Linked DNA regions of Homo sapiens. The protein of the gene in region 1 interacts with the protein of each later gene in a pairwise test. Each region holds a gene or a part of one and is shown in the gene's direction. Other genes may lie near its edges. The genes, in order: OPRM1, TMEM236, FLNA, NSG1, CLDN8, SMAGP and TM4SF4.

Evidence for each region.
Region 2: the proteins of OPRM1 (region 1) and TMEM236 interact in binary tests that used the Homo sapiens proteins (3 or more experiments, as listed by UniProt).
Region 3: the proteins of OPRM1 (region 1) and FLNA interact in binary tests that used the Homo sapiens proteins (3 or more experiments, as listed by UniProt).
Region 4: the proteins of OPRM1 (region 1) and NSG1 interact in binary tests that used the Homo sapiens proteins (3 or more experiments, as listed by UniProt).
Region 5: the proteins of OPRM1 (region 1) and CLDN8 interact in binary tests that used the Homo sapiens proteins (3 or more experiments, as listed by UniProt).
Region 6: the proteins of OPRM1 (region 1) and SMAGP interact in binary tests that used the Homo sapiens proteins (3 or more experiments, as listed by UniProt).
Region 7: the proteins of OPRM1 (region 1) and TM4SF4 interact in binary tests that used the Homo sapiens proteins (3 or more experiments, as listed by UniProt).

The regions. Positions count from the first base shown.
Region 1 is NC_000006.12:154,129,468-154,133,202, forward strand, and holds the end of OPRM1 (mu-type opioid receptor), read left to right. Parts: 3' UTR 1-2,889; downstream 2,890-3,735. UniProt on the Homo sapiens protein: Receptor for endogenous opioids such as beta-endorphin and endomorphin. Receptor for natural and synthetic opioids including morphine, heroin, DAMGO, fentanyl, etorphine, buprenorphin and methadone.
Region 2 is NC_000010.11:17,750,712-17,755,275, forward strand, and holds the start of TMEM236 (transmembrane protein 236), read left to right. Parts: upstream 1-1,489; 5' UTR 1,490-1,584; coding exon 1,585-1,841; intron 1,842-4,564.
Region 3 is NC_000023.11:154,353,709-154,357,634, reverse strand, and holds part of FLNA (filamin-A), read left to right. Parts: intron 1-11; coding exon 12-201; intron 202-360; coding exon 361-384; intron 385-2,562; coding exon 2,563-2,810; intron 2,811-2,923; coding exon 2,924-3,019; intron 3,020-3,151; coding exon 3,152-3,254; intron 3,255-3,343; coding exon 3,344-3,484; intron 3,485-3,591; coding exon 3,592-3,720; intron 3,721-3,907; coding exon 3,908-3,926. UniProt on the Homo sapiens protein: Promotes orthogonal branching of actin filaments and links actin filaments to membrane glycoproteins. Anchors various transmembrane proteins to the actin cytoskeleton and serves as a scaffold for a wide range of cytoplasmic signaling proteins.
Region 4 is NC_000004.12:4,411,075-4,415,000, forward strand, and holds part of NSG1 (neuronal vesicle trafficking-associated protein 1), read left to right. Parts: intron 1-3,926.
Region 5 is NC_000021.9:30,213,273-30,217,639, reverse strand, and holds CLDN8 (claudin-8), read left to right. Parts: upstream 1-1,542; 5' UTR 1,543-1,714; coding exon 1,715-2,392; 3' UTR 2,393-3,634; downstream 3,635-4,367.
Region 6 is NC_000012.12:51,249,776-51,253,701, reverse strand, and holds part of SMAGP (small cell adhesion glycoprotein), read left to right. Parts: intron 1-3,926. UniProt on the Homo sapiens protein: May play a role in epithelial cell-cell contacts. May play a role in tumor invasiveness and metastasis formation.
Region 7 is NC_000003.12:149,484,508-149,488,433, forward strand, and holds part of TM4SF4 (transmembrane 4 L6 family member 4), read left to right. Parts: intron 1-3,111; coding exon 3,112-3,248; intron 3,249-3,926. UniProt on the Homo sapiens protein: Regulates the adhesive and proliferative status of intestinal epithelial cells. Can mediate density-dependent cell proliferation.

The DNA.
Region 1 (3,735 bases):
AACAATGTGAGAGGGTCTTTCTCTCCTCTCAATGTCAACATCATATATGATTGGAGACTTCCACATAATTGAGTTTTAGTGCCCACTGTTACAGAAAATCATAATGGAAAAACTAAAATGTCAATAATAATTTCAGATGTGTATTTTAGTTCTCATAAGAACATCTACATTCATTTGAAAAATAGTTCTATATCTATTCTTGAAACATATTTCTTTAGTTCAAGGTCTGATGAGCTCCCAGACTGTTGGGGATTGCTCTACAGCTGCTCAAGCTTTTGAAGACTCCTGTGATTTTTTTAAATGGCTGGTTTGGTTGAAGTTTCTCTTATCAGTCAGGCACTTTGCATTTTAAGCGTACTTTACCACCGACACCCTCCCCCCCCAGCACACACACACACACACACACACACACACACACAACATAGTGAAATGGACCCGTGGGAATTATATGATAGTTGTAATCAAAATAAAATGCAATCAATACTAAAATACAATTTACCAAAGGCTTACCTCCTTATTTGAAACTCCAGCATCAATAATTTACTTGCACTCTTGTTATTTACATTTGTACTCTGGAAGTAAACTTAAAATGAAAATTAGAATTTGCTTTCAATTATACTATCTCTATCTAAATCTTAATTTGAAATTTAAATTATTTTGTCTCTACCCAAACCATCGATTTCATGGAAATGTTTAAATTTTCTTTTTTTTTTTTTTTTTTGATGGAGTCTCACTCTGTCGCCCAGGCTGGAGTGCAGTGGCTCAATCTTGGCTCACTGCAACCTCTGCCTCCCGGGTTCACACCATTCTCCTGCTTCAGCCTCCTGAGTAGCTGGGACTACAGGTGCCCGCCACAACACCTGGCTAATTTTTTGTATTTTTAGTAGAGATGGGGTTTCACCACGTTAGCCAGGATGGTTTCGATCTCCTGACCTCGTGATCTGCCTGCCTCGGCCTCCCAAAGTGTTGGGATTACAGGTGTGAGCCACTGCGCCTGGCCAGAAATGTTTAAAATTTCATAAATCTTGAATCCATAAAATTCAATGCTACCATTTATAATTTAATACTCCTACCATAAAAATTTCTGTGTTAGGCATAGCTATATGAATATTTGCCTATAAATCCCCATCAATTTAATAGGAATTAAGTTAGAAATACTAGTATATATATTCCCTTTATATACTAATTGTATATCCATATAAAAGCATTAGTACCATTATATGAAAGTATATATGCCATTCCATAAAAATATATCTACCAATATAAATAGAATATATAAAGGGAATATATATATACCAATATAAATGGGAATTTATATTGGCACATACATTTCCATTATTTTAATGGGAATTAAAGAAAAAATGCCTGTTTTCACTAAGTCATCCTTCCCCTGGCAATACATTTCCTGAACTTTTACATACTTAAATAGCCAGTTATGAAAATGTAAAACAATGAGTGATCTTGTTGTTTTCATTTTATTATGTTATATGAAAAAAAGAAACCTTGTAAGTGCAGATTTATTTTAAAAAATTGAAAAACTACTCTGTCAAACATAGCAAATAGGAAAGTTAAAAAAAAGTAAGTCTAAAGATTAGGTGCTCTGTCACTTGTCATTACATTTTTTTATAACATTAATGACACATTTTTTGCTATCCAAATATAATTTCCACTAGAAAAGAAAAGATGTCCTCCATGTTTTAAATTGCATTTGAAATTCAGGTAACTAATAACCCTTGGTTTTAAAAGATACATATAATGTTTCCGTAGGAAAAAAATCAAAATATTGTAAAGAATCTGAGTAAATGAGAGCCTCTCATGGTTGATTAAGTTCAGACATTTTAAACAGACTCCTGCCCACAAACTATTTTTCCTCTCCAGGAATAAGAATGGCAACTGAATTGTTCCTTCTTTATTCTATAGCTTTAAGTCAAACCTAACATAAGCAATCAACCCTTCCACCCATTGTCCTCTTTCTAGCTGCTTATATTCCTGAGTCTGAAAGAAGGGCAGAATTAATTCGTTTCCTTGACAGTGTTGGGGGTGAAATAAAAGATAGACCCCTGCTGCTCTGCACGTAGATTCAGTTTGTATGCCAGGGTGACATTTTAATTTACAGTAGTCCAGACACCTAAACAGGACATAGAAATGTCAACTGGTCATATTAAAATAAAAAAGTATAGAATAGTTTCTGTTTTACGGATTTTGTATCCAAGTAAATGAAAACACAATCACCTTTCAAAACATGGTATGAAATCCACAGTTGTAACAGTGAGCACAACATGCTTTCTGTGTGTGTTTTTAAGCTCTTTCCCCACATCTGCTTTTCAAAAATATTTGCCTGGAAACCTGTATTTCGCCTATAGAGACAAATACATATATTGTTTGTTGTGATAATGCACAAAAAGGAATGTTAAAAAAAAACACACAACATTGTTTTCCTTTTGATGGTCTGGGAGTTTTTCTATAAGTTTTTGGTTTTTTTTTTTTTTTCTCTTCATTAGTGTGTTAGTTCCATCATCATGTCTGTTTACTATTGAAAAATAAATATCTTCATTTAAAGTAGAGACAAAGCTACTATTTCACATTTCCAGGTAGGACAGGATGATCAGATGCAGCTTTCAAAAGAACTACCTGCTAAATCATAATGGTCTCATGTGCAGATCAAAATGTCAACTAGTATATCAAACAGTGAGCAATTCACTAAATTATTTTTACATTACTCCTATTTGACTGTTTCAGATAGTTGTATATAAAAAATATAAATTTTTGCATTGTATTGTTCTTGATGTACCAGCATACATAAACATATTAGGCTGTATTGTAAGTTTCCTGCATGTAATATGTAATGTGTAATTATATGTGATAAATAAAACCTAAAACTGATACAAATCTAGATTTTCCCTTGTCTTTCTCATTCTGACATTACTGACCTGTTTTAAAAGAATATTCCCCAAGTAAATGTTGCGACGTAGGTAAATAGCCTAAGAATTAGAGTAACAGACAACTTTGATACTAAATAAATACTTCAAAATAAAGAAGTGAACTTTCTCTCTTCATGAATTATTTCTATTTTTAGAACCAAAATGTCTCTAAACCTTGACAACCATAACTTCCTAAGCTAGAATTCTAACCAAACCATACAGAGAAGAAAAATATCCACTGTAAAGTCTATAGTTGAAAATATAGGCAGCTAAATCCACTGATAGTCTACTTTTTTTAAAAATGTGTTCTTGATGTTTTGAGCAGGAAAATTATTTGCAAGAAACAAAGAGTTTGATAAGGTGAAATTCAGAGCATGCTCTGGGTTGTTAGGTACAATTTTTTGAAGTGGAAACGTCTCAACATGAAAACACTTTATGGTAAGAAAAAAACGGCTGGGCGTGGTGGCTCACGCCTGTAATCCCAGCACTTTGGGAGCCTGAGGTGGGTGGATCACGAAGTCAGGAGATCGAGACCATCCTGGCTAACACGGTGAAACCCCATCTCTACTAAAAATTCAAAAAATTAGCCGGGCATGGTGGCAGGCACCTGTAGCCCCAGCTACTCGGGAGGCTGAGGCAGGAGAATGGTGTGAACCCGGGAGGCGGAGCTTGCAGTGAGCCGAAATTGTGCCACTGCACTCCAGCCTGGGCGACAGAGTGAGACTCCATCTCAAAAAAAAAAAAAAAGAAAGAAAAAAACTATCTCAAAATAACATTGCATAACTTTAGATTGCCTATTGAAAAGAGTTATTTA
Region 2 (4,564 bases), on another chromosome or scaffold:
GTGTCCCTGTAGCACTTCATTTACACTCTTCTGGCCTTGGTTTTTTGTTGTGGTTCCTCATTTTATCTCCTCCATTGGACCTCAAGCACTTTCAGAACAGGAACTGCTGTCATTCATTCATCTTCACACCCTAACACATACTAAAATGCTCATTGTAAGTGCTCTAGTATGTTTTTCTTTTCTTTTTTTTTTTTTTTTTTTTGAGAAGGTGTCTTGCTCTGTTGCCTAGGCTGGAGTGCAGTGGCATGATCTCAGCTCACTGCAACCTCAGCCTCCTTGGTTGAAGTGATTCTTCTGCCTTAGCCTCCCAAGTAGCTGGATTACAGGCATGTGCCACCACGCCCCTCTAATTTTTGCTTTTTTTTTTTTTTTTTGAGACGGAGTTTCGCTCTTGTTGCCCAGGCTAGATTGTAATGGTGCAATCTCGGTTCACTGCAACCTCCGCACCTCCCAGATTCAAGCGATTCTCGTGCCTCAGCCTCCCAAGTAGCTGGGATTACAGGCATGCACCACCACACCCGTCTAATTTTGTATTTTTTTCGTTTTTTGTGCAGATGGGGTTTCACCATGTTGGTCAGGCTGATCTTGAACTCCTGACCTCAGGTGATCTGCCTGCTTCAGCCTCCCAAAGTGCTGGGATTACGGGTGTGGGCCACCGTGCCTGGCCTTAATTTTTGTATTTTTTAGTAGAGACGAGGTTTCACCATGTTGGCCAGGCTGGTCTCGAACTCCTGACCTCAGGTGATCTGCCCGCTTCAGCCTCCCAAAGTGCTGGGATTACAGGTGTGAGCCACCATGCCCGGTCTCAAGTATGTTTTTCAAAGGAAGGATATTCATGGAGACAATTGTCATTCTTTAAACATTTGATATGCATTTGAGCTAGTCACAGATAGCTGTTAATGTGTAAATCTTGATAACAGGCTTCTAATGTCACCATTTCAGTTTCCTGTGCAGCAAAACAAAAATAACATTAATTTGTGTTATATGGCAACTAATGCACAATAATGAATAAATATCTTAAGTATTAGGGAGAATCCTGGTTAGAGAGTTGATAAAGTGAATACAAACTCCCTTTTCAAGCACTTGAAAGGGAGGGATGGTTTTCCAAGATGAAGACTTAGGTTTGAGTATCTCCCTTTGCCTGAATTTGCTTTTATGTAAAAATAGAGGGTTGGATTCTATCTATTCCCCTTTAACTCTAAAATTATATTATTCCAGCAGTTTTACTTAACAAGAATTGACTATCACACAAATGGTTTTGTGCTAACGTTAGCAATAAACACCTTTTTAAAACCCTGCTTTTACCCATGCTCCCGGGCATGCTCTAAAGTTCATTTGACTTCTAATAATGGATGTGCAAATATGTTGAGTGATCACTTCCACAATGGTCCTGTTCCTTTAAGAGACCACGGTTGTTAAGTTAGGAGATCATTGAACCATATGAGGGTCAATAAAAGAATAAAAAGTCACTGGTTAGCGATTCGAGGACAAGGAACTTGATCCCAGTTCAGTGTCTGTGGGTCCATATGCTGCCCACAGTCAAAGAGGGAGTCCCAGGTTCTTGGCAGCTTGCTTTTCCTCAGGATGGCTTCTGGAAGGCTCATTAAGTTCGTGGTTTTTGAGCTCCTAGAGTTTGCCGCTTTCTCCATCCCCACACTCGTGATCACAGAACAGTTTGCCACCGCCTACCAAGGAACAAGGGCTAGATCTGACAACACACACTACTGGCTGATCATCTCCTGTTCTATTGCCTATGTTGCGTTAGTGACTCTACTGATCTGGGTTCCTGTAAAAGTTATCCTGCACAAGAAACGTTATATTTACAGAAAAATTAAAGGATGGTAAGTAAAAGAATTTTCTTTTTTTTCTTTTTGATTTGGAGTCTCGCTCTGTCACCCAGGCTGGAGTGCAGTAGGGCAGTCTTGGCTCACTGCAACGTCCGCCTCCTGGGTTCAAGTGATTCTCCTGCCTCAGCCTCCTGAGTAGCTGGGATTACAGTCGCACACCACCACACCTGGCTTATTTTTGCATTTTTAGTAGAGACGGGTTTTTGCCATGTTGGCCAGGCTAGTCTTGAACTCCTGACCTCAAGTGATCTGCCTGCCTCAGCCTCCCAAAGTACTAGGATTACAGGCAGAAGCCACAATGCCCGGCCTGTAGAAGAATTCTTTAGTAGGGAATCCCCATGATGCTGTCAAAGATACGTTTGTTTGTTTGTTTTTTTGTTTGTTGTTTGTTTTAACTTTAAAGTTCAGGGGTAAAAGCGCAGGTTTGTTACATAAGTTAACTTGTGTCATTAGGGGTTTGTTGTACAGATTATTTCACCGGCATGCACCACCATGCCCAGCTAAGTTTTGTACTTTTAGTAGAGACGGGGTTTTCATGTTAGCCAGGCTGGTCCCGAGCTCCTGACCTCAAATGATCCACCCATCTTGGCCTCCCAAAGTGCTAGGATTACAGGAGTGAGCCAACACGCCCAGCCTGTAAAAGAATTCCTTAGCAGGGAATCCCCGTGATGCTTTCAAAGATATATTTGTTTGTTTGTCTGTTGTTTGACTTTTAACTTTTAAGTGCAGGTTTGTTACATAGGTTAACTTGTGTCATGGGGATTTGTCGTACAGATTATTTCATCACCCAGGTATTAAGCCTAGTACCTATTAGTTGTTTTTCCTGATCCTCTCCCTCCCACCGTTCACCCTCTGGAAGGCCCCGGTGTGTGTTGTTCCCCTCTGTGTGTGCATGTGTTCTCATCATTTAGCTCCCACTTATAAATGAGAACATGTGGGATTTGGTTTTCTGTTCCTGCGTTAGTTTGCTAAAAGTAATGGCCTCCAGCTCCATCCATGTCCCTGCAAAGGACATGATCTTGTTCTTTTTCATGATTGCATAGCATTCGATAAAGTATATATGCCACATTTTCTTTATCCATTCTATCACTGATGGGCATTTAGGTTGGTTTCCTGTCTTTGCCATTGTGAATAGTACTGCAACGAACATACGGGTGCATGTGTCTGTATAATAGAATGATTTATATTCCTTTGGGTATATACCCAGTATTGAAATTGCTGAGTCGAATGGTATTTCTGTCTTTAGGTCTTTGAGGAATCACCACACTGTCTTCCACAATGGTTAAACTAATTTAGACTCCCACTAACAGTGTATAAGTATTCCTGAAAGATATGTTCTAACATACTGTGGGTAAGGATGTGAGCAGAGCGTAAGGATAGAATGTGACATTAATGGGAGGCTACAATTACTGCTTCTGTGAATGTATGGATATTATGGTATCTTCCTTAATTTTTCTACAGTCATTTATACTGAGTGATAATAACACATGAGATGGGTTAGTAAGACTGGAGTTTGTGCCAGTTCATGCTATTCTAAGTAGTAAATGTTGGACTTAATTCTCCTGGACACTAAATTACATAAACTTATCGGAGTGAGCTTACACAACTCATAATCAGAAGATGGTAATGTAGAATTTTAATTTTGCGTAAAACTGAAAGTAATGTCTATTTTTAATTATTTACATTGCATTTTGCAGGCTTACGTCATACTTTGACCATTAACTACGACTTTTAAAACAACTGGTTCCTTTAGACTTTTTATTTACTTATTTTTTATTTTGAGACTGGGTGTGGCTCTGTTGCCCAGGTTGGAGTGCAGTGGCGTGATCATTGCTCACAGCAGCCTCAACCTCCCCAGGGGGCTCAGGTGATCCTCCTACCTCGACCTCCTGAGTAGCTGGGACTACAGGTGCACACCACCACACCCGGCTACTTTTTTTGTGTTTTTTATAAAGATGAGGTTTTGCCACATTGCTCAGGCTGGTTCCAAACTCCTGGGCTCAAACAATCCACCCGTCTTGGCCTCCCAAAGTGCTGAGATTACAGGCGTGAGCTGCCAAAGCTGGCCTACTTAGACTTTAAAAATAAATAATTTACTGTGTTGGTAAATTCTGTTACCCTTGTAGGGGAGGAAAGTACTTCAATAACAATACAGAGATATTTTAAATAAATCAGGATTTAATGTTAATTTAACTAGCAGTTTAGCTAATGGGTATACTGATCCACATAAGGGTATTGAGAACAAATAGTCTCTGATATTAATGTATTTTTCCTTTTAGATCTTCAGATCTGATTCTTACTCATCTTGGACTTCTCTCTTTTCTTTAATAAGTTAATATAAGCTAATTTTTCTTTCATACTGATGTTTTATTTATTTATTTATTTATTTATTTATTTGAGACAGAGTTTCACTCTTATTGTCCAGGCTGGAGTGCAGTGGCACGATCTCAGCTCACTGCAACTTCCGCCTCCTGGGTTCAAGCAATTATCCTGCCTCAGCCTCCTGAGTTGCTGGGATTACAGGGTCCTGCCACCACTCCCGGCTAATGTTTTTTTTTTTTTTTGTATTTTTAATAGAGACAGGGTTTCTTCATGTTGGCCATGCTGGTCTTGAATTCCTGACCTCAGGTGATCTGCCTGCCTCGGCCTCCCAAAGTGCTGGGATTATAGGCATAAGCCACTGCTCCCGGCCGATGTTTTATTTTGAAAGCGAATGA
Region 3 (3,926 bases), on another chromosome or scaffold:
CTGCCACACAGGATCCCGAAGGCAAGCCGAAGAAGACACACATCCAAGACAACCATGACGGCACGTATACAGTGGCCTACGTGCCAGACGTGACAGGTCGCTACACCATCCTCATCAAGTACGGTGGTGACGAGATCCCCTTCTCCCCGTACCGCGTGCGTGCCGTGCCCACCGGGGACGCCAGCAAGTGCACTGTCACAGGTGAGCCCGCCCGCTGTTGGCCGCTGCGGCGCTCGGCACGGGGCTTGGGTTGTGCCTGTGTGCAAGGGCTCGCTGCTTGGGGCGGCGTGTGGGAGTGGGGGCCGCCCCCTTGAGTGACTCACCTGACCTTTCTCCTTGCTCTCTGCCCTCTCACCTCAGTGTCAATCGGAGGTCACGGGCTAGGTAAGCTGCTTGCTGGGGCCACTCCCAATGCCCCTCCTGCCCAGAGGGGCAGCTTCCTTTCCTCTTGGGGCCGATTCCCAGGACAGTTCCAGCTGCAGCTCTAGGCAGGGACAGAGTTGGGTGGGGTGCAGAAGATGAGGCCGTGGGCTGGAGGGCGAGGGCCCAGGGAGGCTTCCGGAGCTGAGCATGACCGCTCCAGCTCTTCCCCTCTCTGGGCCTTTATTTCCCCATCTGAGAACTCGGGTTGCAGCTGAGAGCTTTGGGGTGAGGTGCATCCTGAGAGGCACCCCACTGGGGACTTTGGGGTCTCGGGATCTTGGCACCCAGGGAGGCACAAGGGCTCCTGCGTGGGCTGAGGGAACAAGGGGTCTCCCCAACTCAATGGGAGCCCCAGCCCTGGCCAGATCCACAGACCCCCATCCCCACCTTCCAGGGGCCTCTGCGTCCCGGGCCGGGGGAGGTGCATGAGCGGGTGGGGCTGGCTGGTAGTGCAGTAGCGCCAGTGTCGACTGCTTGGGCGGCCAGCATGGCGGGGCCCGGCCCAGCCTCAGAGCCCCAAAGTGCATTCTGTGGCCCGTCTCCCTCCTTCCCCCTTCCCCTATCCCCCAGCAGTGACGTTATTCAGACATTCCCCAACAGGCATGGAGGGTCACCTGCCCCAGCCAGGGACACCCAGGGATGCTGATGAGAGGCTACAGGCCTGGCACTTGGGCGAGGTGGCTAAGGAAAGGGTGAGAGGGTGGCTAGAGTTTTGCGGCAGGAGCGAGATGGCTTTATAGAGCAGGCCGTAGGATCCGATGTGTGTGTGACAGGCGTGTGTGCGCAGGGCGGGGGAGGCTGGGGAGTACTGATTGCAGGGCCTTGGGGGCTTTGAGGGTGGGAGCAAGACTCAGTAACCTCAGTTTCCCTGGCTACTGTTTGCAGAATGGAGACAGGGAGCCCGGGGTGGGGAAGGGGGCGCTGAAGTTGCTCTCTGGCAAGCTTGACGGCCACGGGGCTTCAGTGAGAGCCAAATTAGGAGGCATACTTTGAGGATGGAGTGGCTGAGACCTGCGGTTGGCTGGGAGCCGGGCAGGGAAAGTGGGGGCAGTCGGGTACCTGTGAGGTTGGGGCCCAAGCCACTAACTAGATGGCATGGGGTGCACATGAGTGAAGCCTCCCAGGGCAGCGTGGGCAGCCGGCAGCCAGGTCTGGAGCCTGGGAGAGCTGCCTGGCCGCGGCAGGCCAGCATGGAGCCTAGTGCAGCAGGAGCCCTCGGCCGATAGTGGGACTTGGTGGCAGGGCCCCTCGAGCTTGGCCTTCAAGTAGGTTTCGTGCTCCTGGCTGCTTCCCTGGCAGGAGGCCAGGCTGCAGGGGGCACTCTCACTGCCAGGCCTCACAGCCCACAGCCCCCCAAGCCTCCACGGCGGAGACCCAGATCATAACGTCACTGTCTCTCCCCTTTCCTCGGGCACTCTGGGGCCCTGGAGCCTGCTCAGCTGCTCTGCCCTCGCAACCCAGCAGTGGTGGCTGTAGCTTGGGCCTCCTGTTCCCTGTCTCCCTGGGTGCTATCCCCGCTCTGCCAAGCCTGCTGCGCTGCGCTACTCGGGTGCTAACCCCGCTGCCTCCCGCTTCCCCGCTCCCACTCCTGTCTGCACCGGGCTGCTTTTCACCGCGAGCCTTCTCAGTTGTCAGGAAACTCCGGTTTCACCATCAGGCCTGGGGGGTGGGGAGGCAAGTGTCACATCCCCCCACGCTGCAGCAGGACTCCGCCTCACCGCGTCCACACACAGCAATGGGGGCCGGGGCCAGGCCAGAAGGGCGCAGGCAGCCGTGTGCCCAGCCAGATGCTGGCGTTCAGCAGTGTGGGCCATGGTGCTGGACGAGGCTGAGTAGGCAAGGGAGTGGCTGTCAACACTTAGGCTGGAGTGGGCCCTTCCTTTTCCTCCCAGGCACCTGGGTGCTACTGTCGGGCCTCTCCCACATGGGCACTTGAGGTGGTCAGGAGAAACCTTCCTGCCTTCTGAGAAACCACTCGCCATCCCAGCTTGGAGGGGCAGGGCGGGGCAGGAGGCCTGGCGGCCTGGCTGTGCTTGGTGGTGGCAATGAGAGGCCTGTGTGGGCGGCAGGCGGACGGGAACAACCTGAACCCGAGCTCACACGCTGGCCCCCCTTTGGGGACCCACCCTGCCCCACCAGGTGCTGGCATCGGCCCCACCATTCAGATTGGGGAGGAGACGGTGATCACTGTGGACACTAAGGCGGCAGGCAAAGGCAAAGTGACGTGCACCGTGTGCACGCCTGATGGCTCAGAGGTGGATGTGGACGTGGTGGAGAATGAGGACGGCACTTTCGACATCTTCTACACGGCCCCCCAGCCGGGCAAATACGTCATCTGTGTGCGCTTTGGTGGCGAGCACGTGCCCAACAGCCCCTTCCAAGTGACGGTGAGGAGGGGTGGGGGGTAGGTCAGCAGGGGTGTCTGGCAGGTCCCGGCCTGTTCCCCTGGGGCCCCTCTGTGACAACAGACTCTCCAGCAGCTCTCTGCTTTGCCCTGCAGGCTCTGGCTGGGGACCAGCCCTCGGTGCAGCCCCCTCTACGGTCTCAGCAGCTGGCCCCACAGTACACCTACGCCCAGGGCGGCCAGCAGACTTGGGTACGGCCTGGCCAGCTAGGGACACTGGGGCTAGCCAGCTGGGTGTTCTGTGAGCCCCTAGTTTACCATGTGTGAGGAGGGACCCCAGATCCTCCCACTGTCCCTCACCCATGCCCTGTGTCTCCACTGCAGGCCCCGGAGAGGCCCCTGGTGGGTGTCAATGGGCTGGATGTGACCAGCCTGAGGCCCTTTGACCTTGTCATCCCCTTCACCATCAAGAAGGGCGAGATCACAGGTGAGTGGGGACTTGGGAAGGAGCTCGGGAGCCAAGGAGGCCAGACTGTGCCAATGAGCTGCCCTGACCTCAGCCCCACTGCCCCACAGGGGAGGTTCGGATGCCCTCAGGCAAGGTGGCGCAGCCCACCATCACTGACAACAAAGACGGCACCGTGACCGTGCGGTATGCACCCAGCGAGGCTGGCCTGCACGAGATGGACATCCGCTATGACAACATGCACATCCCAGGTGGGCCTGCCCTGCCTCTGCCCACTCCACCGCCACCACCTCACAGAGAGATGGGGCTGGGGGACACACGAGGCTGCCATTCCACAAGGCCCTTCTTCCTGCCTCAGGAAGCCCCTTGCAGTTCTATGTGGATTACGTCAACTGTGGCCATGTCACTGCCTATGGGCCTGGCCTCACCCATGGAGTAGTGAACAAGCCTGCCACCTTCACCGTCAACACCAAGGATGCAGGAGAGGGTGAGCAATAGCTCTGGTCTTGACCTGCTCTGTGCCCGGGATGCCCTCACCGGGGTAAGGGCTGGACTCAGGAGATACTCCTGAATGGGGCTCCCTGCCCTGCTGCCCTGGCCATCGGAGCTCCTCAGTGCAGGCCAACTGGAGTGTCCCCAGCATAGTTCCCATGCTCACCCACGGCTCTCTCCAGGGGGCCTGTCTCTGGCCAT
Region 4 (3,926 bases), on another chromosome or scaffold:
CGAACTCCTGACCTCAGGTGATCCACCCACCTCGGCCTCCCAAAGTGCTGAGATTACAGGCGTGAGCCACCACACTCAGCCAATAAACTTTTAAAATGTAAGTTTTTGACTCTTTTGTAATAACACTTAGCTTAAAGCTCAAACATCTTGCACAACTGTATATTATTTTTCTACATGTGCTTTTTCTATTAAAAAATTTTTTAATTCTTTTTTTACTTCCAACACATTTTTGTTAAAGCTAAGGACACAGACACACACATTAGCTAGGCCTGCACAGGGTCAGGATCCACAGTATCACCGCCTTCTGCCTCCACACCCTGTCCCACTGGAAGGTCTTCAGGAGCAGTGACAGGCACAGGGCTGTCATCTCTTAGGATAACAATGCCAGGCCAGGTGCAGTGGCTCACGCCTGTAATCCCAGCACTTTGGGAGGCCTAGGTGGGTGGATCACCTGAGGTCAGGAGTTCAAGACCAGTCTGGCCAACATGGTGAAACACCGTCTCTACTAAAAATACAAAAATTAGCCAGGCATGGTGGCGGGTGCCTGTAATCCCAGCTACTCAGGAGGCTGAGGCAGGAGAATCGCTTGAACCCAGAAGGCGGAGGTTGCAGTGAGCTGAGATCATGCCACTGCACTCCAGCCTGGGCAACAGAGGGAGACTCCGTCTAAAAACAAAACAAAACAAAACAAAACAAAACAAAACAAAACAAAACAAAACATTGCCTTCTTCCAGAATCTCTCTTGGAGGAGCTCCCTGAAGCTCTTTTAGAGTTAACTTTTTTTTTTTAATAACTAGGCATGCACTCTAAAATACTGATTAAAAAGTATAGTACGGTAACATAAACAAGTAACATACGCGTTTATTGTCACTGTCAAGTATTATGTTCTGTATGTAATTGTATGTGCAAGACGTTTATACAGCTGACAGTGCAGGGGGTGTGTGTATACCAGCACCTCCGCAAAGTGAGGAGTGTGTTGTGTTCCGTCTACACGGTGGCTGCGAGGTCACCAGGCGACAGGAGGTTTCAGCTCCGTGACAGTCTTATGGGGCCACCATGGCATGTGGTCCATCGTTGACCCAAATGCTGTTATGCCGCGTGTGGCTGTAAAACGCACTTGCTGGTTCCCCACAGGGAGGAGGGGGTGGCTAAAACTGCCTTCCCTATCCTGCAAGCCCAAGTCCCGCTGGATACCTGGCCTGGGTGGGAGATGACCCAGGAGATGAAGCCCCAGTCCTGTGTCCGGCTGCAGATGAGACTGGCGGCCACAATGGAAGGGGCCTGGCACCTTTTGTTTAAAAGGCGCTCCAGGTGATTCCCATCCACAGCCAGCCTTGGGAATTGAGAGTCCCCTGATAAGTTGTTCTGGAGTGATGTCCTGTGGGACTTTGGCATTTTCCACTAGCATCTAATGAGGGGGTGTCCTTTCCGGAGAAGGCACCTAGGAAGGCCAGGGAGCTGCTGGTCTGTATCCAGCTGCCCTTGGCCAAAGCTGGAGAAAGGAGAGGCGTGAGCTCATGAAGTCCCCTTGACCTCCTCCCTCCATATTTGTGCGTGTGTTTGTCACACACCAACGCTAGGCAGCTTGTGTGGGGCTTTTACACCTGTTGCTCACGGAATCCATACACTCGGTAGCTGTGGGCTCCCGTTATCCATACACTCAGTAGCTGGCTCTGAACTTCCCAGAGTCAGTGTGAGATGCTCATCTCCAGGGCTTGGCACTGCTGAGATTAAAATAAAGCAGGAGAAGCCAACTGTTTCTAGCACTGAGCACGTGCACAGGGAAGCCTGGCTTGGCAGCTGTCACTGGGTAGCTTGGGTTTGGGTTTCATTTAGGTTTTGTTTTTTGCTGATATGAGGACGCAGAGAGTCCTTACGCGATTAGCAGGAAAGGCTGGAATTCACGTTGTCCAGCCCAAGTCCCTTTTTCTCCTTGCACATCATGCTGTCCTTCAGGCTCCCGACATTCAGCTCTTCCTCCCTTGGGCAGGCATGTACATGGCACCCACCCCGTGCCAGCAGCTCTTGCTATTGTTCTAGGCGCTGGAACACAGCCGAGAGCCAGTCAGGTACAGCCCCCTGCCTTCACGAGGCTCTTACATTCTCAAATGAACGGTGAGGAAGTCAGTCGTACACTGAATGTGAAGGCTATAGACAGACAGGAAAGAGGGCCCAGGGGTTGGGCATGGGCATGTGGGCGGTAGTTTCTAGAAGGATGGTCCACATTGGAGGAGCGGGTCTCCAGGAGGTGAGCCAGGGAGCTTGCGGGTCTTGGGGGAGTGTGCCCAGCCAAGGAAAGCCCCCACCCTTTCACTCATGTTTTATTCAGCAAGCCCCGTCCACGCCCTAGGCTGGGGCTGGGAGAGTTTGAGTCTGTTTTGGAGGCTGAGAGGACACCAGGGCTTTACAACAAGCAGAAGCGGAGGGTGCGGGCTTCAGGGAACGAGGGCAGTGCTGGCCCTGACCCAGTGGGAAGGGGTTTGTGATGGTAGAGGAGCACAGAGGGAGCAGCGGGCAGTGGGGACGTGCTGGTGGGGGTGTGCTGGTGGGGGGCTAGCCACAGGCACAGGGAGGCGGCAGAGGATGAACCAGCTTACGGCCAGAGCGGGTGCATCCTGAGTGCCAGGCACAGGCCCCTGGAGGAGGGGGAAGTGATAGGGTGACCTCTTGGGTCACCTGGGGAGGCTGGAGATTGGAAGGGAGAGACGGGGCAGTGAGATGACCAAGGAGACTGCTGCAGTGGCTGAGGGAAGAGAAGACTGGGGCGCTGGGGATGGAGGGGAGACTGCAGACTGGAGAACTGATTTAATCTGGGAGGCAGAGGGGTAAAAGGAAAGGGCCTGGTGCAGAGCTAGTTACTGAGGGAGGCCGATGTCATGGAGAGGGAGCACGGGCAGGCCCAGGAGCTGGCCCTGAGCCGGAGAGAGGACAGCAGAGGACAGCTTCCTGGGGGCCGGAAGTCCCCACCGAAACTGGCTACTTACAAATAACTGAGGCCAGTGGCTTCACCAGCTGCCCTGGAGCTTCCTTCCTGGCTCATCCTCTCTGAGCCTGGAGCAGGTTCCCCACAGGGAGGAGGGGGTGGCTAAAACTGCCTTCCCTATCCTGCAAGCCCAAGTCCCGCTGGATACCTGGCCTGGGTGGGAGATGACCCAGGAGATGAAGCCCCAGTCCTGTGTCCGGCTGCAGATGAGACTGGCGGCCACAATGGAAGGGGCCTGGCACCTTTTGTTTAAAAGGCGCTCCAGGTGATTCCCATCCACAGCCAGCCTTGGGAATTGAGAGTCCCCTGATAAGTTGTTCTGGAGTGATGTCCTGTGGGACTTTGGCATTTTCCACTAGCATCTAATGAGGGGGTGTCCTTTCCGGAGAAGGCACCTAGGAAGGCCAGGGAGCTGCTGGTCTGTATCCAGCTGCCCTTGGCCGAAGCTGGAGAAAGGAGAGGCATGAGCTCATGAAGTCCCCTTGACCTCTTCCCTCCATATTTGTGCGTGTGTTTGTCACACACCAACGCTAGGCAGCTTGTGTGGGACTTTTACACCTGTTGCTCACAGAATGCATCCAGAAGCCCTTTGAGGTGGATGCTGTTATATCCCCATTTTACCAGTGGTTAGAGGGTGTACAGAGGCTCTTCGTGGAGCCCAAGGTCACGCCCTTCAGTTCACTTGGTACAGTCAGCATGTACTAAGTACCTCCTACTATGTGCACACTGGACTCGACACCTTGAGGGCAGGGACCTCAGAGCCCCAGGCAGTGGGGAGGGGACAGGCTTTTTCTGGACAGCCACTCCCAGTGGCCCCAAGCTGAGGCATATCGTGAGGAGGGTGAAAAAGGCAGACGTGGCCCGAGAGGACACTAGGTTTCTACCTCTGCCTTTAAAAAAAAACAACAACAACATGAAATTACTACATGTTTTATAAAAAAGT
Region 5 (4,367 bases), on another chromosome or scaffold:
CGTGAGCCACCGCCCCGGCCAAATGCTGCATATTTTCTGCATCAGCCTAAGGGACACCCTGAAGTTTGGCACCTCACAGGTCAACAAATGAGAATATTTCTGTAAATATTAAGTTTTAACTTTTTATAAGGTTTATAACGTCTGTTTAACAAAATTATAACAACTCATACTACTGTGCGTCTGTCCTGCCTCTTTTTTAGAAGACAGTCTACTTGATCCTCCTTTTGCCCTTTCTACCATATAGTTTTTGTTTTAATAATATCCACAAATGACTCAGATTTTTTGAACCATGAAACTCTCAAAGTTTAATCAGTGAGCAGAAACGATTTTCTCCCATATTTGGATTTAAGGTAGTCCAATGAAACAGAGAGAAAGTAAAACTGTAAAGAGAAAATCATTTTTTATGATGTTAAGAAGAAAAGAAAATGAAGTGGCAGCTTAAACTTTGGAAAGATCAGACAGAGAGCTTAAGGTGATCTCCAGAAGAAAATTGCTAGTCGAATTTTCTCAGATAAACATTTATGCTTAGTATAGCACTACTGTTAGAGCATCATTATTTTGAGAAGAAAGTTCAAATTGTCTTGCGTTTAGGGGTTTCTATGTCCTACTGCAGACATAATATTAAAAGGTAGGAAAACATATTTGGTTAATACCTAATATAATACAGTTTGGTAAATATAGTTCCCTTGTCTTGTAAATATCTTATTTTGAAATATCAGCCATTTGTATAGGCCCAAGGGTCTTGTGTCATCTTCAGAATTCTAGTTCCTTCAGCCCAGGAATTCAAAGCAGCAAGAATAACACCACAAAATAAGCTCATAAGCTTATTTTAATGCTATAGTGCTGGATACATAAGATAATCATCTGGTGATTTTTATTTTGGCAAAAAATGTTTTTATAAGTGAAGATTATCAGAAAAGTGTCAATGAGTATTTTTTCTGGCTTAAAGAACTCCAATATGTTTTCAGTGCCAAGGAGAAGGACAGCCTTGTGTATTTAATTACTTTAGCTTATTTTGTCCTCTGGCATGATCTGTTCCCTGATTTCACCACAGTAGAGCTTGCTTTGAAGTTGTAGAAAAATTAAATCAATCACTTGGATCACATGTGTCCCAAAGAATGTGGCTTCCCAGGTAAAAGCAATCTTTCAATCCCCTACTCTCGTTTCACTTTGGCATTTCAACAGCGTTGCAGAATTCTTCGGCAGATAATTTATTTTATCCCTTGGTCCCAGCAGCTCTTATTAAGAGTTTCAGAATTGCCTGTACAAGGTGCACCTTTCACATTACAAGGGATCGGCTCATTTCTTGATGCTTATGCAACCACTTATAACTATGCCTACAGGTAAACATACTGCTGTCTTCTTGGAAGACCGAGAAGTATAAAGAATGTTTATGTGCAGGTCTAGCTGTTCCAAGTACCCAAGTGTTGGTTTAGACACACCTGGATTACCATCCACCTTTTATTGGCTGAGAAAGTTGCCACACCTGATTTGTAAGTTTACCTGTTGCAGCCAATAGCAGGGCCATCTCAGCCAGCCAGCACTGGATACTATCTGGCCAGAAGTAGCAAAGCAGCTCTTATTTGAAAAACCACTGGGTTCCGAGTTCATTACTACAGGAAAAACTGTTCTCTTCTGTGGCACAGAGAACCCTGCTTCAAAGCAGAAGTAGCAGTTCCGGAGTCCAGCTGGCTAAAACTCATCCCAGAGGATAATGGCAACCCATGCCTTAGAAATCGCTGGGCTGTTTCTTGGTGGTGTTGGAATGGTGGGCACAGTGGCTGTCACTGTCATGCCTCAGTGGAGAGTGTCGGCCTTCATTGAAAACAACATCGTGGTTTTTGAAAACTTCTGGGAAGGACTGTGGATGAATTGCGTGAGGCAGGCTAACATCAGGATGCAGTGCAAAATCTATGATTCCCTGCTGGCTCTTTCTCCGGACCTACAGGCAGCCAGAGGACTGATGTGTGCTGCTTCCGTGATGTCCTTCTTGGCTTTCATGATGGCCATCCTTGGCATGAAATGCACCAGGTGCACGGGGGACAATGAGAAGGTGAAGGCTCACATTCTGCTGACGGCTGGAATCATCTTCATCATCACGGGCATGGTGGTGCTCATCCCTGTGAGCTGGGTTGCCAATGCCATCATCAGAGATTTCTATAACTCAATAGTGAATGTTGCCCAAAAACGTGAGCTTGGAGAAGCTCTCTACTTAGGATGGACCACGGCACTGGTGCTGATTGTTGGAGGAGCTCTGTTCTGCTGCGTTTTTTGTTGCAACGAAAAGAGCAGTAGCTACAGATACTCGATACCTTCCCATCGCACAACCCAAAAAAGTTATCACACCGGAAAGAAGTCACCGAGCGTCTACTCCAGAAGTCAGTATGTGTAGTTGTGTATGTTTTTTTAACTTTACTATAAAGCCATGCAAATGACAAAAATCTATATTACTTTCTCAAAATGGACCCCAAAGAAACTTTGATTTACTGTTCTTAACTGCCTAATCTTAATTACAGGAACTGTGCATCAGCTATTTATGATTCTATAAGCTATTTCAGCAGAATGAGATATTAAACCCAATGCTTTGATTGTTCTAGAAAGTATAGTAATTTGTTTTCTAAGGTGGTTCAAGCATCTACTCTTTTTATCATTTACTTCAAAATGACATTGCTAAAGACTGCATTATTTTACTACTGTAATTTCTCCACGACATAGCATTATGTACATAGATGAGTGTAACATTTATATCTCACATAGAGACATGCTTATATGGTTTTATTTAAAATGAAATGCCAGTCCATTACACTGAATAAATAGAACTCAACTATTGCTTTTCAGGGAAATCATGGATAGGGTTGAAGAAGGTTACTATTAATTGTTTAAAAACAGCTTAGGGATTAATGTCCTCCATTTATAATGAAGATTAAAATGAAGGCTTTAATCAGCATTGTAAAGGAAATTGAATGGCTTTCTGATATGCTGTTTTTTAGCCTAGGAGTTAGAAATCCTAACTTCTTTATCCTCTTCTCCCAGAGGCTTTTTTTTTCTTGTGTATTAAATTAACATTTTTAAAAAGCAGATATTTTGTCAAGGGGCTTTGCATTCAAACTGCTTTTCCAGGGCTATACTCAGAAGAAAGATAAAAGTGTGATCTAAGAAAAAGTGATGGTTTTAGGAAAGTGAAAATATTTTTGTTTTTGTATTTGAAGAAGAATGATGCATTTTGACAAGAAATCATATATGTATGGATATATTTTAATAAGTATTTGAGTACAGACTTTGAGGTTTCATCAATATAAATAAAAGAGCAGAAAAATATGTCTTGGTTTTCATTTGCTTACCAAAAAAACAACAACAAAAAAAGTTGTCCTTTGAGAACTTCACCTGCTCCTATGTGGGTACCTGAGTCAAAATTGTCATTTTTGTTCTGTGAAAAATAAATTTCCTTCTTGTACCATTTCTGTTTAGTTTTACTAAAATCTGTAAATACTGTATTTTTCTGTTTATTCCAAATTTGATGAAACTGACAATCCAATTTGAAAGTTTGTGTCGACGTCTGTCTAGCTTAAATGAATGTGTTCTATTTGCTTTATACATTTATATTAATAAATTGTACATTTTTCTAATTATTTGACATTCTTTCACAAGTCTCCTTTTGTTTCTGTTTTATTAACTTGTAGAAGAATGTTGAAAAGCCTGATAATTTTTTATTCTCCAAATTGAGAAAGAATGTCAAGATTTGCCTTGTAAAGACAAACAGTGCATTAATTTTTGAAAATATAAAGTACTCTATGTTATTTATGTTATTTAACAACAATATACCTTATAATCATTGGATCCCTATACCAATATTCAATGCAGATAATATATTTATAATTTAAGATAGTACTATAAATTCAAGCAAATCTATATGTTATAAATATTATGTATATAACAGCCAGGTTTGAAAAATTTTCTGTAGCTAAATATATATTTCTACTTCTGAGAAATAATAAATAATATTGTCTAATGTTCTGGGGGCATGTATTACATGCTAGGACCTCTACTGCTTATATGAATTGTTATTAAATCTTTTATGAGACTGATAATGTTATTAGTTCAATTCAAAGATGAGGCTATCTCAGAACAATTCATTGATTACTCAATAGAATCAGGAGATTTATAAAAAGGCTGCCTGGACTCATAGCTCAACACTCTTTCTCTCAAGGAAAGTGAATTATTTTTTCAGCAATGTCTAGTTTAAACACGAATTTTTATATGTTAAAATGACACACTTAACTACCATGAGTTGGGAAAACTTTTAGTTGTCTTTTTTTTTTGTAAATTTTTTTAGTTGAGACAGAGTCTCACTCTGTCACCCAGGCCAG
Region 6 (3,926 bases), on another chromosome or scaffold:
TGTCCTTTTGTGCCTGGCTTATTTCACTTAGTGTCATGTCCTCAAGGTTCATCCATGTTGTAGTATATGTCTGAATTCCTTCCTTTTTTGTTTTTTGTTTTTTTTTAGAATTTCCTTCCTCTTTAAGGGTATGTATATACCACATTTTGTTTATCCATTTATCTACTGTTGGACATTTGGGTTATTTCACCTTTTATTTAGCTATTGCATAATGCTCCTATGAACATGATATACAAGTATCAGTTGAAGTCCATTCATTTCTTTTGGGTATATACCTAGAAGTGGGATTGCGGGATCATACCCACCCAGCAATGAGATTGCTGGGTAATTCTGTTTAATCCTGGCAGGAACTTTAAAGGTAAGGGTTTTTGCCTGTGTTGTTCACTGATAGAAGCCCAGAGCCTGGCACAGAGTACACACTCAGTAAATTCTTGTTGAACTAACTGTTTAATTTCCCTGTCTAGGAACCTGGAATCTCAGTCTAAGAAGGCTGTGCAGCTTATCTGACCCAGCTTGCTCTCAGTAGTCCCATTCTGACTTCTAATGCTTGCTGTTTCGAGTTCAAAGCCCCCCAAACAGGCCGTAATAGTGTGTTCTAGAACTTTGCTGGGGAGTCACATCAAGCTCACCATTGCTTTATGGACTCCACCTTCCTTCCATGGCCCCTTCAGGTTCCCGACCCCTTTCTCTTTCTCAGAAGCTCCTATGTCACCAACAGAAATCCCATTTACAAGTTCTTGCAGTGCCTTTGGCTGTCATATCTGGTCCCTTTTAGATTAGTCTGGTGCTTGCTGGGTTTCTTTGCTTCTCTTGAGCTCACTTCCCCCATGTCCCCAAAGGCTCCACTGCTCCTTAGTGCAAAAAAATGATTCTCTTTGATAGGAAACAGAGGTGAAAAGGCCTGAGGGAATTCTGCTTTCTCTGTTACCTCCAACCTGACCCCTCAGGCCCAAAGAAGCCTAGCTTTTTCTTTGTTCTTGTTGCAAATATAATGCTTTTTAAATTGTCCTTCGGGGGGCGATGTGGCTCACGCCTGTAATCCCAACACTTTGGGAGGCTGAGGAGGGCGGATCACCTGAGGTCAGGAGTCTGAGACCAGCCTGGCCAACATGGCAAAACTGTCTCTACTAAAAAATACAAAAATTAGCCGGGTGTGGTGGCACATGCCTGTAATTCCAGCTACTTGGGAGGCTGAGGCAGGAGAATTGCTTGAACCCAGGGGGCGGAGGTTGCAGTGAGCCGAGATGAAGCCACTGCACTCCAGCCTGGGTGACACAGTGAGACTTGGCCTCAAAAATAATAATAATAGGCCGGGCACAGTGGCTCATACCTGTAATCCCAGCACTTTGGGAGGCCGAGGCGGGCAGATCACGAGGTCAGGAGATCAAGACCATCCTGGCTAATATGGTGAAACCCCGTCTCTACTAAAAAATACAAAAAATTAGCCGGGCGTGGTGACATGCGCCTGTAGTCCCAGCTACTCGGGAGGCTGAGGCAGGAGAATCGCTAGAACCTGGGAGACAGAGGTTGCAGTGAGCCAACATCGCGCCACTGCACTCCAGCCTGGGTGACAGAGCGAGACTCTGTCTGGAAAAAAAAAAAAAAATCTGATGTAGAGTCTGCCTTCTTGTCATCGTTTAAATATTGAGGTAAATTTCTTTGCACCTTTCTTCATCTGCACTTTCTGCTTCACCAGATGGCTTCATATAAGTGGAAACTGACCAATAGCTGCATCGCAGCAAGGCATTCTGTAGAATTTTTTTCTTAAGGTCTTCCTGTATGGCTAAAATATTCTCTAGTTGTGAGAAAGCTTGCTTCTGATCATGTTAAACATTAAAGCTAAAGAGGGTGGGGAGTCCTCTGAACCTCTTTTGGTTCTAGGGGCTGCTCAATTTAAAAAAATTAAAGAATAGATAACTGAAAATAAACTAAAAATAAAGAAGTCACATATAAACCAACATGACTTCTGCATTACACTGACATCGTTCCCTTAAGTTACCTATCACCAGTGAGCCAGTTCATGTTAAAGAAGCACTTTGTAGCACAACTGTCTGTATTTAATTGTGATCATCTGGTTTCCTCCCACCTTTATTCTTTTTTTTTTTTTTTCTGAAACAGGGTCTCACTCTGTCACCCAGACTAGAGTACAGTGGCACAATCACAGCTCACTGCAGCCTGGACCTCCTGGGCTCCAGTGATCCTCTCACCTCAAGTTTACCGAGTAGCTGGGACTACAGGTGTGTGCCACCATGTCTGGCTAACTTTTTTTTTTTTTTTTTTTTTGTAGAGATGGGAGTCTGGCTATGTTGCCCAGGCTGGTCTCCAACTCCTGGGCTCAAGCGATCCACCTGCCTTGGCCTCCCAAGGTGCTGGAATTACAGGCGTGAGCCACTGCACCCAGCCTCCTCCATATATTATTTTTAAAAAACAAATAGAGATGGTGTCTTGCTATATTGTCCAGATTAGTCTCAAACTCCTGGCCTCAAGCAATCCTCCTGCCTCCGCCTCCCAAAGTGTTGGGATTACAGGCGTGAGCTACCACACTAAACCTAATGTACAAAGTAAGTTACTGTTGATGATTGAACACAAATTACTCATCTTCAAGCTTCTGATATACATTAATCTTCTCAATGCTTTGTACATCCTAAATTCTCAAAATGTTTAAAGAAAGCAAAACTAGGAACAACTGTATAGAACTCTAGATCCATGGTAGGAAGATGGATTGCAGCCCTGGGCGATTTGGGGAGGAAAGTGCATGGTGAAATGTGTGAAGTCATGACCAGGTAGATAAACTTCAGGGCTTCCCTTTGATGGGAGTCACAGTGTTGTATAACCTAATCTCAGAAGTTACATGCCATCATTTTTGCCATCATCTGTTAAAAGCAAGTCACCAGGTTCAACCCATATACCAGAGGAGAGGCATGCTCAAAGATGTCAATACCAGGAGGCAGAAATCATTGTGAGCCATCTTAGAAGCTGTACACCACACTCCCATTTCACAAATCAAGAAACTGAGGTACTGCCAGGTGTGGTGGCACACGCTTATAATCCCAGCATTTTGGGAGGCCAAGGCAGGAAGATTGCTTGAGGTCAGGAGGTTGAGGCCGCAGTGAGCCAAGATTGCACCATTGCACTCCAGCCTGAGCAACATAGTGAGATCCTTGTCTCAACAACAACAACAAAAAAAAAACAAAAAAAAAACACAACAACAACAACAACCAGGTTCAGAGAGGTTTAGTAACTTCCTCAAGGTCACCTAGTAATATGCTTAGGCAGGATTCAAACCCAGAGCAACTCTCCCTTTAATTAATTTATTTTTTTGAGACAGGGTCTCATTACTCTGTTGCCCAACAATTCAGTAATGCAGTGCTGGCTCATTGCAGGCTTAACCCCCTGGGCTCAAGCAATCTTCCCACTTCAGCCTCATGAGTATCTGGGACTACAGGCGCATATTACCACACCTGGCTAATTTTTACATTTTTTTTTTTTTTTTTTTTGTAGACAGAGTCTTACTGTGTTGCCCAGGCTGGTCTCAAACTCCTGGCCTCAAGCGATCTTCCCACCTTGGTCTCCCAAAGTGCTGGGATTACAGGCATGAGCCACCATGCCTGGCCCTTTTAATCACTAAGCATATTAACAAAGTCACCTTAAATAATATTTAAGTAGTAGCTACTATATGATGTTTACATGTTCTCTCATTTAATCTTCATAATAGAACTGCAATGTTGGTTAATATAGTTCCTGTGGGTAACAGATGAGAATGGATGAATGAATCCATATGTATAGGCGAGGCACAGTGGCTCACACCTGTAATCCCAGCACTTTGGGAGGCCGAGGCAGGTGGATCACTCGAGGCCAGGAGTTCGAGACCAGCCTGGCCAACATGGTGAAACCCTGTCTCTACTGAAAATACAAAAATTAACTGG
Region 7 (3,926 bases), on another chromosome or scaffold:
TGAGTAACTGGGATTACAGGCATGGGCCACCACACCCCGCTAATTTTTTTTTTTTTTTTTTGGAGGCGGAGTCTCGTTCTGTTGCCCAGGCTGGAGTGCAGTAGCGTGATCTCAGCTCACTGCCACCTCCGCCTCCCGGGTTCAAGCAATTCTTCTGCCTTGGCCTCCCGAGTAACTGGGAAAATAGGCATGCACCACTGTGCCTGGCTAATTTTTATATATTTTTAATAGAGATGGGGTTTCACCATATTGGCCAGGCTGGTCTGGAACTCCTGACCTCGTGATCCACCAGCCTCGGCCCCGCAAAGTGCTGGGATTACAGTCGTGAGCCACCACGCTAGGCCTAGAATACCCTTTAAACTATAACAAGGCCTAGAATACCTTGTTAACTATAATATCCAGAACTAGGAACTATGGGTTCAACCTTTTTATAATAATTAATAAATATGTGTTAAGAAAAAATTTTTAACACAATTCTGTCATCTAACAATGATTGAGTTGTTTCTGACTGATGTCTTCTCTAGGCAGTACTTGGTTGTTCAAAATAAAGTGTTTGAGGAAATACATTATTACCTGATAGATGAAATAAGGACTCAACTCTAAGGTAATTCCTTCATTTCTGAGGAATAATGTGAGAGTGAATGATTTTCCTTATATTCCAGCATATGTAGTAGATTTCCTTCTCAGAAGTTTACACAAATTCATGTTTCATAAGTACTATATTTTTAGAAGTGCAGCAGGAATGAAACTTAGTTATGTAATCCAGCAATTCTCAAACTTATTCAACCTTACATCCTTTGGAAAAGAGATTGCCTGTTCTAACACGAGAAATTTACCAAAATGTTCACTTACTTCTGACCTAGGTTAAAGTCATGAATGTTCTGGATGCTGAGAGTGGATTTAGATACCCTAAACATAAACAATAAGGGGAAAAATCTAAACAATTAGTAATATGAAACCTTAGTCATTGAAAACATGCAACAAGTCATTATCCAGTGCCTTTGATAAGCTAGGAAGAAGGAAAACTGTAAAACTATGCTAAGTGTGGAAAAATGCCCTATCTTCAAATAACTTATTGTCTGTGACTTCAAGGAACTTGTGCTCTATTTGGAGAAGACAGCCATAAAAAGCTAAGCATTAGTTGGGCATGGTGGTGCATGCCTGTAGTCCTAGCTCCTTAGGAGACTGAGGTGGGAGGATCACTTGAGCCCAGGAAGTTGAGGCTGCAGTGAACCACGATTGCACCACTGCACTCAGCCTGGGTGACAGGGCAAGACCCTGTCTAAAAACAAAAACAAAAACAAAAACAAAAAAACCTATGCATTATTGTATTAGAGGCATTGTGCTGTGATAGAAATTTGTGCAATCTAGAGTACAGGGGTTGGAAGAGATGAAGAATGAAGGGTCAGTTCTACAAGGAGAGTCAGACAAAGCACATGAATAGAGCTTGGTATTAAAACGTTGCATCAATCAGATGAGTTGGCAAAAGAGTTAAATTTTCTATTAAAAAGACTTTTTTTAAAAGTTGCATCCAAAATACATTGATATATGATATGAAAATGAATCCCAGCTAAAGTAGAACTCCATTATTACATAGATTCCAATCACCCAGGCACGATCAGGTCCTCTTCACCTTCAAACCTTACCCCATCCCAGATATGTACTATGATAATATTGTTAATAACATGAAAGGGGAAAGGGAAAATAGCCGACATTTAGCTTAAGCTGCCACGTCTAATTTTCACAACAGATATTTAAGGTGGGCTCTATCATGCCCATTTTAAGATGATAAAACTAAGGCTCTGAGGACACATTCATTATGCAAAGTCATTACACAGAGAAGACTAGCAAAGCTGAGATATGAGCCTGGGTCTGGGTCTGCTGACTTTAAACCCTGTGCTTCGTCATCAAAGCAACAGAGGTGATCGTTTTCTGCCTCTTCTTCCAAAATTTTAAATGTTTTCATTCTACTTTCTAGTTACTGTCTAGAATGGATATTGCAAAAGTTCTTAACATCCTGGGCCTACATTTTTTCATCCGTAAGAGGGAGTTAACCTAGCTGGGTTCCAGGATTGCTTCTGCCTTTTGCAGTCAATAATTCTATTTTGATTTTATAATTGAAAACAAAATATGGTAGTCTAATCTGTTTTTCATTAATCTCCATCATAGAAAAATATTTAAAAGAATGGAATTTTTTGATTGTTTAACTTAAAGAAGAGAAAATGCTCCGAGGGTGGAAGGGGTGAGAGATGTCAAGGCAATCTTCAGATATTTTAAAGACTGATGCCAAATGGAAGACAGGTTAGACTTGATCTTTTTGGCCTCGAGGAACATAATGAGGGCCAATGAGGAGGGGTTCTAAACTTTTACTCTTTCTCATAAGTAGAACCTGCCTGTCACATGAGACATCACAGTGACTGGCCTTAGCAGGATAATTTGACCAGAAAACTTAAGATTACTGCCAGGCCAGGTGCGGTGACTCACATCTGTAATCCCAGCACTTTGGGAGGCCAAGGCAGGCGAATCAACTGAGGTCAATAGTTCAAGACCAGCCTAGCCAACATGGTGAAACCCTGTCTCTACTAAAAATACAAAAAAGTAGCCAGGCATGGTGGCGCACGCCTGTAACCCCAGCTACTCAGGAGGCTGAGGCAGGAGAATCCCCTGAACCTGGGAAGTGAAGGTTGCAGTGAGCTGAGATCACACCATTGCACTCCAGACTGAGCGACAAGGGTGAAACTCCGTCTCAAAAAAAAAGATTACGCCAATCCTAAGGTTCTTTGATTCTATAATAGATTGGCTTTATATATCAGCCCTGGGGAGGAGAGTTTATCTTTAACAAGGTTAAAAGGCCATGGCTCAAAGGTAACAGAACCAACACCTCTGTCATCAATGAAAAGGTGAAAAAGAAATGGAAATGGGAGTGAAGAAGGGAAAAGAAGACACCAAAATTCATTCTAGAAGACCCCACAGGCCCCATCTACTATAAAGACTAGCTCCTACTCCATAACTTCTTGTAGTCACCATGTTCAACAGCAGGTGGATTAGGTTTGTTGAGTGTATCCTCTGGACCACCTGGAGAATGTGACTGTCTCTCTTCCTCTCTTTCAGATGTTCACCTCCACGATATTTGCTGTGGTTGGATTCTTGGGAGCTGGATACTCGTTTATCATCTCAGCCATTTCAATCAACAAGGGTCCTAAATGCCTCATGGCCAATAGTACATGGGGCTACCCCTTCCACGACGGGTAAGGCCACACCCTGCAATGCCCACCTGTCACCACAAGGGGCATGGGCAGATAAATTGCCCAAGGGGAGACTGCACACAATGCCATGTCTTCATCCTTATGCAAGCCTCAGGCTCGGTGCTCCTTTGAGGCAGAGATGGAGTTGTGGAATACAGCAAAGTTGCATAGGCTCTCACCTCTAATTGCTCCTTTGACAGACCCCAGGAGAAATAACTAAAAGAGGACGGATGCCTCCTTTGGCCTGAGGGAAGGAAGAGATTTGTTGTGTCATCACTTGCACCCAAATATTTATTAGCAGCAACACAAGGCAACTAATAATATTAATAAACAGAGTAATAGTTTTCATTACAAATCTCATAATAGAAAACAAGAATAATTAACCACTAACTGGGCCCAAGGGCTTTCATTAATACCCCAAATTGCCTATAATTAAACAATCATTTAAGTGCAAATGTACAGAAAATGACATTGAAATCATTGTAGGTTTCTCATGTTAATGTTAATAGACTCATTAAAATAACATTTCATGTTTTCATGGTACTTTGTAGATTGTAAAGACCTTTATCCCACAAATTTATAATTTAATCTTCATAGTAACCTCAAGAGGTAATTACTCTGTGCCAAGGCAGGCTTAATAAGCTTAACTAGCTTCAAAGTCACATTGTTAGTTGAGGACAG